2 linked regions of the Homo sapiens genome follow. The protein of the gene in region 1 interacts with the protein of each later gene in a pairwise test. Each region holds a gene or a part of one and is shown in the gene's direction. Other genes may lie near its edges.

The links.
Region 2: the proteins of CD58 (region 1) and HERPUD1 interact in a two-hybrid assay, tested with the Homo sapiens proteins (one large-scale study listed by BioGRID and IntAct).

Annotation. Positions count from the first base shown.
Region 1 is NC_000001.11:116,542,123-116,548,151, reverse strand, and holds part of CD58 (lymphocyte function-associated antigen 3), read left to right. Parts: intron 1-1,191; exon of another isoform or gene 1,192-1,274; intron 1,275-3,327; exon of another isoform or gene 3,328-3,451; intron 3,452-3,547; coding exon 3,548-3,841; intron 3,842-6,029. UniProt on the Homo sapiens protein: Ligand of the T-lymphocyte CD2 glycoprotein.
Region 2 is NC_000016.10:56,935,142-56,938,641, forward strand, and holds part of HERPUD1 (homocysteine-responsive endoplasmic reticulum-resident ubiquitin-like domain member 1 protein), read left to right. Parts: intron 1-93; coding exon 94-171; intron 172-259; coding exon 260-334; coding exon of another isoform or gene 335-336; exon of another isoform or gene 337-350; coding exon of another isoform or gene 351-356; intron 357-1,545; coding exon 1,546-1,676; intron 1,677-3,500. UniProt on the Homo sapiens protein: Component of the endoplasmic reticulum quality control (ERQC) system also called ER-associated degradation (ERAD) involved in ubiquitin-dependent degradation of misfolded endoplasmic reticulum proteins.

The DNA of each region.
Region 1 (6,029 bases):
AACAATCCCATCAAAAAGTGGGCCAAGGACATGAATAGACAGTTCTCAAAGGAGGATATACAAATGGCCAACAAACATATGAAAAAATGCTCAACATTACTAATTATCAGGGAAATGCAAATTGAAACCACAATGCAATACCACCTTACTCCTGCAAGAATGGCCGTAATTTAAAAATCAAAAAATAATAGATGTTGGCATGGGTGTGGTGGGAAAAGGGAACACCTGTACACTGCTGGTGGGAATGTAAACTAGTACAACCACTATGGAGATTTCTTAAGCAACTAAAAGTAGAACTACCATTTGATCCAGCAATCCCATTACTGGGTATCTACCCAGAGGAAAACAAGTCATTTTATGAAAAAGACAACACACAACATGTTGCACACAACATCTTTATAGTGGCACAACTCGCAATTGCAAAAATATGGAATCAGCATAAATGCCCATCAATCAATGAGTGGATAAAGAAAATGTGGGAGATATATATATATATGAATATGCCATAAAAAGGAACATAATAGGCCAGGCGCGGTGGCTCGTGTCTGTAATCCCAGCACTTTGGGAGGCCAAGGCGGGCAGATCACGAGGTCAGGAGATCGAGACCATCCTGGCTAACATGGTGAAACCCCGTCTTTACTAAAAATACAAAAAAAAAATTAGCCGGGCATGGTGGTGGGCGCCTGTAGTCCCAGCTACTCAGGAGGCTGAGGCAGGAGAATGGCGTGAGCCTGGGAGGTGGAACTTTTAGTGAGCCGAGATCACGCCACTGCACTCCAGCCTGGGGACAGAGCGAGACTCTGTCTCAAAAGAAAAAAAAAAAAAAAAGAACAAAATAATGGCATTCACAGCAACCTGGATGGAACTGGAGACCATTATTCTAAGTGAAGTAACTCAGGAATGGAAAACCAAACATATGTTCTAACTTACAAGTGGGAGCTAAGCTATGTAAGAATGATACAGTGAACTTTGGGGACTTGTGGAGAAGGGTGGGATGGGGATGAGGGATAAAAGACTACACACTGGGTACAGTGTACACCAGAATCTCAGAAATCACACCCAAATAACTAAAAAAAAAAAAAAAACTTATCCATGTAACCAAACATCACCTGTTCCCCCAAAACTATTGAGATAATAGTAATAAAAAAATTTAAAAAAGAAAAAAAAGCATAAGGAAGAAAATATACTTACTAAGTGAAAGTGGATCATCAAAGGTCTTCATCCTCATTATCTTCACGTTAAAGCAGGCTAAGTGGGAGGAGGGGTTGGTCTTGCTATCTCAGGGATGGCAGAGGCGGAAGAAAATCCACATGTAAGTGGACCCACACAGCTCAAACCCATGTTGTTCAAGGGTCAACTGTACTTTGATTTCTTCTGAGCTGCAGTCTCCCCTTTCTCTACCCTCACTTCCCTCCACCACTAGCTCCATTCCTGACTACTTTCTTCTACTGTTCTCAAGCCCAGGATACATCAGCTCTCCCTGGGAAAGACAAAAGACATCTTCATGCCGCCAGGGTATGGCAGTTTATCTCATACCTACTCTTTCACCACCACCCTGCCCTCTATCACTCATTGTTTCATTTACATTTATAAGACATTTTTGAGTTTCCACTATTGTGTGTGGTAGACTCTCACCCCTTGAATTCTGTACTTTTTCTTGTGCCTTCCCACATACTCTGTTGAGTGGAGGAAATAATGCATAATCGGCAAAGCAATGGAAAGATGCTGGTGTGTTTTTGAGGGCAGTTCCCCTTAATTAAGGGAGATGGGTTCTAAAAAGTCCTTGTAGATAAACAAATGGGTGATATTTGCTTCTTATCTGAAATTACTAACACAGTTGTCTACAACTGGTCATTCAGTGTTCTTGATTTCCCCTGTATTATTTCAATTACCCTAATTGCTACTAGGCAAAAACTTCAGTCAAATTTTAATTGCTCTTTAATGTTAACTTAAAATAGCTGCAGTTTTTTGTTTGTTTGTTGAGACAGGTCATGCTCTGTCACCCAGGCTGGAGTGCAGTGGCACAATCATGGCTGACTGCAATCTCTGCCTCATGGCTTCAAGTAATCCTCTTCAGCCTCCCAAGTAGCTGGGGACCACAGGTGTGTGCCATGCCCAGCTAATTTTTTGTACTTTTCGTAAAGATGGGGTTTCGCCATTTTACCCAGGTTGGTCTTGAACTCCTGAACTCAAGCAATCCAACCACCTTGGCCTCCCAAAATGCTGGACTTACAGGCATGAACCACAGGACCCAGCTGCTGTTCTCTCTTAACAAGAGACAAGTCCTAGAGCAAGATGCATTTAAACCCACTTTGGGGTATCAAAAATATCCCAATCTTGTGGTTCTAATAAATGTTTAACAACTAGGTTGGTATGGAGGTTCTGATGTGAAGCATTAGTCAGTTTCTGTGCTGTTACTAGATGTTCCCTAATAGGGCTGGGCAGAGATGCTAACAATTGGCTCATGAGGGCAGGTGGACCTGGCTCCAACCCACCACTGCACCCAATCCCTGAGTTCTTAATCTTCATCACACCCTCGACTTGCTTCCCAGCCATTGTTTCTGATCTCAGTTAATGATGCCTCTCAGTCAGCCAAGGAGACCTGACAGTCCCATCCACTTCCCCCACCCTCATCACTGAATCCTGTTGACTTCTCTCTCCAGCATCTCCTGAGTCTGTCCGCTTGTCTGTCCCCACTACAAACACCCTGCTCTGGTCTGTCCTGTCCATGGACTTCATTGCTACAGCATTGACTTTCATTATAATTTCCCTGCCTCTGTGCTGGCCCCTGTCAGCCGCTCTCTACTCTAAAGACAGTCAGCCTGCTGACACTTAAATTATGTTAGGCCAGTCTTGTTAAAAACCTTTCTGTGGCTTCCTCTCCATTAGGATCAGTCCAAACCCTTAGCGTTCCTTACTTTAGCACACATAGGCTGTGGGCTGGCCTTTGTCTGTCTTGTTCCCCACCAGCCACCCCTTGCCCTCCTCATTCTAGCTGTTAGGAATCACGTGTGTATCCTCAAGCACACCATGCTCTTTCTCCATTCAGGGCCTTCCTTTGGGGGTGCTGCTTCCTATATATCTGTATGATCATCTCTTCTTCCACTCCCCACCCACTCACCTACCCAGCCCTGCGGCCTAACTGCCTTTTATCCTTCAGTGATTTGCACGTTATGTCAGTTCCAGCATGACTTCCTTGGGGAGGCCCTAGACCAGGCAGCTCCCCTCATGCAGCCCCTGATGTAGAGCCTGCTCCCTGTCTTCTCCACACGTGAGGCTCCTGGAGGGCCTGGAACAACCCCATATTCCCAGCCCAGCCCGTACTACCTGGCAGATGGTTGGTGCTCCATGAATGTCGGGTCCATTTCTTGGATTTATGCAGGTCCCAGTTTTCTATTAAAGAGTAAGCTCCACATGGTCAAACATGTTCTTACTTCCTGTATTTTGTGTCAGCAGTTTGTCAGCTTAGCACAAAAAGTACCTGATGAATAATTTCTGCCACCAAAGTCATGTTGTTTTTTCTAACCAATTTTTTTTTCTCTCCTAGGTTTCATCAGCTGTTTTTCCCAACAAATATATGGTGTTGTGTATGGGAATGTAACTTTCCATGTACCAAGCAATGTGCCTTTAAAAGAGGTCCTATGGAAAAAACAAAAGGATAAAGTTGCAGAACTGGAAAATTCTGAATTCAGAGCTTTCTCATCTTTTAAAAATAGGGTTTATTTAGACACTGTGTCAGGTAGCCTCACTATCTACAACTTAACATCATCAGATGAAGATGAGTATGAAATGGAATCGCCAAATATTACTGATACCATGAAGTTCTTTCTTTATGTGCTTGGTGAGTATTCCATAAGTTGATTTGTTTAAAATGGCAAATTTCCATTTTTTTAGTCTGTTTTCAGAGACTAGCACAAATTAATGGTCTATGAGAAAAGAATTAGATGTTACCTGTTGTCAGGGTTTTCTCCTTTTCTGGTATAGAGGAGCTAGCTACTTTCAATTCCTTTGTCATTCCTCTGGGTGAGGAGAGAATCTAACCAAGGTGGGGAGAACAGTATCAGTTGTCTTACTAGGAATGTTTTGGAAAGAGATGTAGTGACAGCAGTTAGCTTAGAACTCTTTGGGCTCCACTGATAGATGTTACTCTATAAAGTTCCTGCTTCCCCACACAGCGGGGAGATTGTTTTTCCTCCTGCACCATTTTATTTAATTAATTTATTTATTTTGAGAAGGAGTCTCACTCTGTTACCAAGGCCAGAGTGCAGTGGCACAATCTTGGCTGACTGCAACCTCTGCCTCCCAGGTTCAAAGTGATTTTACTGTCTCAGCCTCCCAAGTAGCTGGGACTACAGGCCCGCACCACCATGCCCAGCTAATTTTTGTATTTTAGTAGAGATGGTGTTTCACTGTGTTGGCCAGGCTGGTCTCAAACTCCTGAGCTCAGGTGATCCACCCGCCTCAGCCTCCCAAAGTGCTGGGATTACACTCATGAGCCACCACACCCAGCTCCTGCACCATTTTAAACTGAAACTAGAGAGAGGGGACACATTTCTCCCTGCTTCTCACTGACACTCCTCCCTGGTCTCTAAAGCCCCTTTTGTGTTGCAGTCTTGTATAGGCCCCTGCCTCACATGCCAGTGTTTCTTGGTCATTTTAAGGCCTGCCTCATTTTCATTGTTTCTGACATTCCTGGTGTCTTGGTGGTTGCAATATTTAAATTAAAATTCTTTCAATATTGTCCTTGATCGCCTCTCCTGTAAGGATCTTTTCCTCTACGTTACCCACTACCCATGGATGTAACCGAGAACTCATCATTACCTCAATGTCAGGTGTCTCACTCTGACCACCATGCCCTGTCCTTGATGATGCTGATGCTGACAGTCCTTCACACACCTGATGTCCCTGCTGCCCTCCCTACTCAGCCTGAGTGCTGTTGTCACTCACTAGACTCAGTCCGTTGCAGACACACTTAGCTTCCTTGCTCCTTTGCTGGCTTGTCATACTCGCATGGCCAGATTACAGCTAGATTAAGTCCGCTGCTTTGCCTATTCTGTGCTCACACCCATGTGGTTGCAGAAAAATACACCACCCTACAAAGTCCTGCACTTTTAATTTCTCTAATCACTTACCTCAATTAAGTTGGTATTTCCTAGCCTGTTCACTTACCCACTCTCCTAGCAGTTACTTTTTCTCTCCTCAAATCTTGAATACCTCCTTCTCTAGACTGACTCTTCAGCTGAAGGCTTTGCTTCTTATTTCACTAAGGAGAATAAGCAATCAGAGGGCAATTTCCACAAGCTCTCACCACCTGCCTACCTTCCTACCCATACCTGAGCCTGTAGGCCCTGCTTTCTCTCCTGATATGAATGGACTTTCTGAGTTCTCACCTGAAGTTAAACTTTCCACGTGTGCCCTGGATCCCACCTCCTCTTGCCGTCCTCGGGAATATCACCCTAGTGCTTCTACCCACTCTCTCCTGATGAGAATTTCCCCCATAAGTTGATGGTTCATTTTAAGTGGCATACATATATACTGTCATTAAAACTTTCTCATGATCCCTGTACCCCTCCAGCCACCACCACCTGCTGTCTTCACTTTATAGAAAATCTCCTTGAAGAAGTTGTCCATATTCACTTATTCTGATCCCTTATATTCACTTTTAACCCACTCCAAATAGGCTTTCATCTGCACTGCTATGCCAAAACTCCTCTAGACCTCCTTGTTAATAAATCCAGTGGTTCATTCTCAGTCCATGTCATTCTTGACTTCTCAGCAGCTTTTGACATAGCTGATCACTCCCTCCTCCAAGTACTGTCTTCACTTGACATCCAGGATACCACCCTATTCATGTTTCTTTCTCTTTTTTCCTTGAGAGGGGGTTTCGCCCTTGTTGCCCAGGCTGGAATGCAATGGCGCGATCTCAGCTCACTGCAACCTATGCCTCCCGGGTTCAAGTGAATCTTCTGCCTCAGCCTCCTGAACAGTTGAGATTACAGGCATGCACCACCATGCCTGGCTAATTTTGT
Region 2 (3,500 bases), on another chromosome or scaffold:
ATTCAAATTACTTGTATAAAACAGTTTATTCTGTGTTTAGGAACTTGTAGGGGTGAAATGCTGACCTGTGTTACTCTTTCTTTCCATGATCAGCGTCCAGAGGACCAGAGGTTAATTTATTCTGGGAAGCTGTTGTTGGATCACCAATGTCTCAGGGACTTGCTTCCAAAGGTACATCACTTACACATTAACTTCTGAATGTTTTTAAGCACTCACCAGGTTAGGTTCAGGTCCTTAAGTACCTTCGTATTACTTTTAGCAGGAAAAACGGCATGTTTTGCATCTGGTGTGCAATGTGAAGAGTCCTTCAAAAATGCCAGAAATCAACGCCAAGGTGTGTCTGCCTCTTCATGATGGTAACAATTTGTATCATTCAGACTTTCAGGGGAGTAATAAAAGAAGTTGGATAAAACGTTTATTGAGAGACTGTATGGTGTTATTACCAAGTAATATTTTGTTTCTTTCCTAGGAATTAGAAACTGTATTATCAACACAAAGTGATGAGTTAATAGTAGCAGATTGTTCCGTTAGTGCTGTAGTAGAAAGGTGGAGTTACATATTGCACTATCTTATGGGATATGATTTGATCTATGGTTACTGTGTATCTAGATTACTGAACTAACACTAATCGGGTTTTTATTGAATTTAGCACATAGCAAGTTTCTTCAAAGGAGTCACTAATTTTTATAAAGAGTACAAAAGTGAATATATTTCCTTTGGAAATTTTCATTGTGATTAGTTGGATAGGAAAAGATCAGAGTTTTTATCAAGTGATCTTTAAAGAATTTTTTTTTTTTAAAAATGGTCTCGCTGTGTGGCCCAGGCTTTTCTCAAACTCCTGAGGGCAAGCGATCCTCCCACCTCAGCCTCCTGAGTAGCTGGGACTACAGGCATGTGCCACTAGACCTGGCTCTAAAGACATATATGACACACGAAACCATTTATTTTTCATTTCACAATGTTTATTCACATATATGGTATTAGTATTCTAATGTAGTGATGCACTCTAAATTTGCATTATATTTCCTAGAACATCTGAACAGAGCATAGGAAATTCCCTATTTTGCCATTATCAGTTCTAACAAAAATCTTAAAAGCACTTTATCATTTCATTTCCCTGCACTGTAATTTTTTTAAATGATCAAAAACAGTATCATACCAAGGCTTACTTATATTGGAATACTATTTTAGAAAGTTGTGGGCTGGGTTGTATTTATAAATCTTGTTGGTCAGATGTCTGCAATGAGTAAATTTAGCACCATTATCAGGAAGCTTTCTCACCAATGACAACTTCATTGGAAGATTTTAATGAAAGTGTAGCATACTCTAGGGAAAAAATATGAATATTTTAGCATCTATGTATTGAAAATTATGTTGAATAAATGTCAGACTATTTTTTACATAACGTTGCTTCTGTTTAATTTTGTCACGTTCAGAGGTGGGGGGTAGGAGATGTAAGCCCTTGACAGCAAAATAATTCCTTTTGCTTGATTTCAGACAGTTGCATCAGCTCCTTTGTTCTGTGTTCATGTTACACTTATTTAGGTGGCTGAATCCACAGAGGAGCCTGCTGGTTCTAATCGGGGACAGTATCCTGAGGATTCCTCAAGTGATGGTTTAAGGCAAAGGGAAGTTCTTCGGAACCTTTCTTCCCCTGGATGGGAAAACATCTCAAGGTGAGTGTTATAATAAAGATCTTGGCTTATGCAACATGAATGTTCCTCGTTTGCATCAATTTAAGAATAAGGTATGTTTACACGTATATAATCAGAACTTTTAAACATACAGAATTTTGCTTTATAAATAGCTTCGCTTTAAAGATCTCTTATATATTTAACTTTTCTTAATACACAGCCTTTTAGTACACACAAATTTAAAAAGTAGGTAATGCATATATTGAAAAAAAAAAGAAAATGTAGGCGTTTTATCCTTCCATTGTGCTGACCGCTTGGTTGCCGTCATGATAGGAAATTAGTGCTGCTGCAGGAGAAAACAGCTGTCGTAAGCATTGTGCAGCTGCTTTGCTGAGTGGCTTTGTGCTTTATTGTAACAATGGGTGACAACAAGGGAGAGACTGTTTAAGAAGTGTCCTTCCAAAGACTTGGGGGTACTAGGAAAATTGGCCAATTTCTTATAACTATTAAAGCTTTTCTTTAGAGCAAAAGTCAGAACTAAATGCTCTGTTATTTGGATTTTTATAGCTCTTGGAATACATTGTTTTTGGGGAAAAATTCATTAACTGCAAGTTGCAATTCTGTAACTCTCCAATTCTCCGTCCCCCTTTTTCTAGTACTTTTTATACACAATATTTTATAAAGCCAGGTGTTTTAGGAATGAGTTTTTCTTCCTTTTCCCCCTTAATGGAACTTTCAAATATACACAACAGTGGGGACTGGATAATTAATCCCCACACCATCACCCAGGCCTAATAAATAACAATCAGAGTTTTACCATAGCTCATCTATTACCCTTTCCCTTTTTTTTAAAAAAAGAGTATTTAAAAGTAATTCCCAGGCATCATGTTATTTCATCCCTATATTCTTCAGTATATAACTATGAAAACCTTTTAGTTATCTTGTATATCTAGAATGCCATTATCAGATCTAACAGAAATCTTAAAAGCACTTTATCATTTTATTTCCATGCACTGTAATTTTCTTAAATGATCAAAAACAGCATCATACCAAAGCTTACTTGTATTGGAATACTATTTTAGAAATACTCTGTGTATGGAATTTAGTTAAAAGATTGTCAGCATATAAATTGGATAATTATTGGATAGAAAATTATTGGTTAGAAAAACTTAAAACTACTTCCCTTATTCTGATTCAACTATTCTTAACTTGAGAATTGAGGCTCATATTTGACTCTCTGAATCTCACCATATTTAAACTTGATTTCCTTTAACAAATATTTATTGAACAGCCAGTACATACAACTTTGCTTAAGGATATGAGTTGACCTGCAGGAATGACCACATAACCAATTTCTGATCTTTGGGCAATTCTATTATGGTTTCAATTTTGTGATGTGCTACTGAAGAAATTGACTGTGTAAGAAGCACAAAGCCAAAGATGACTCGCATACACCTGCCCTGTGAAGTTGAGGGCTGTGTGGCCTGATTAAAGAAGCATGCATTTGGCCGGGCGCGGTGGCTCACACCTGTAATCCCAGCACTTTGGGAGGCCAAGGTGGGCGGATCACGAGGTCAGGAGATTGAGACCATCCTGGCTAACACGGTGAAACCCCGTCTGTACTAAAAGTACAAAAAATTAGCCAGGTGTGGTGGCGTGTGCCCGTAGTCCCAGCTACTGGGGAGGCTGAGGCAGGAGAATGGTGTGAATCCGGGAGGTGGAGCTTGCAGTGAGCCGAGATTGCGCCATTGCACTCCAGGCTGGGCAACAGAGCGAGACTCCATCTCAAAAAAAAAAAAAAAGAAGCATGCATTTGACATCAGACCAGCTCTGAAATCCAGCCCTGCTACTTACTAGCTCAGTGAC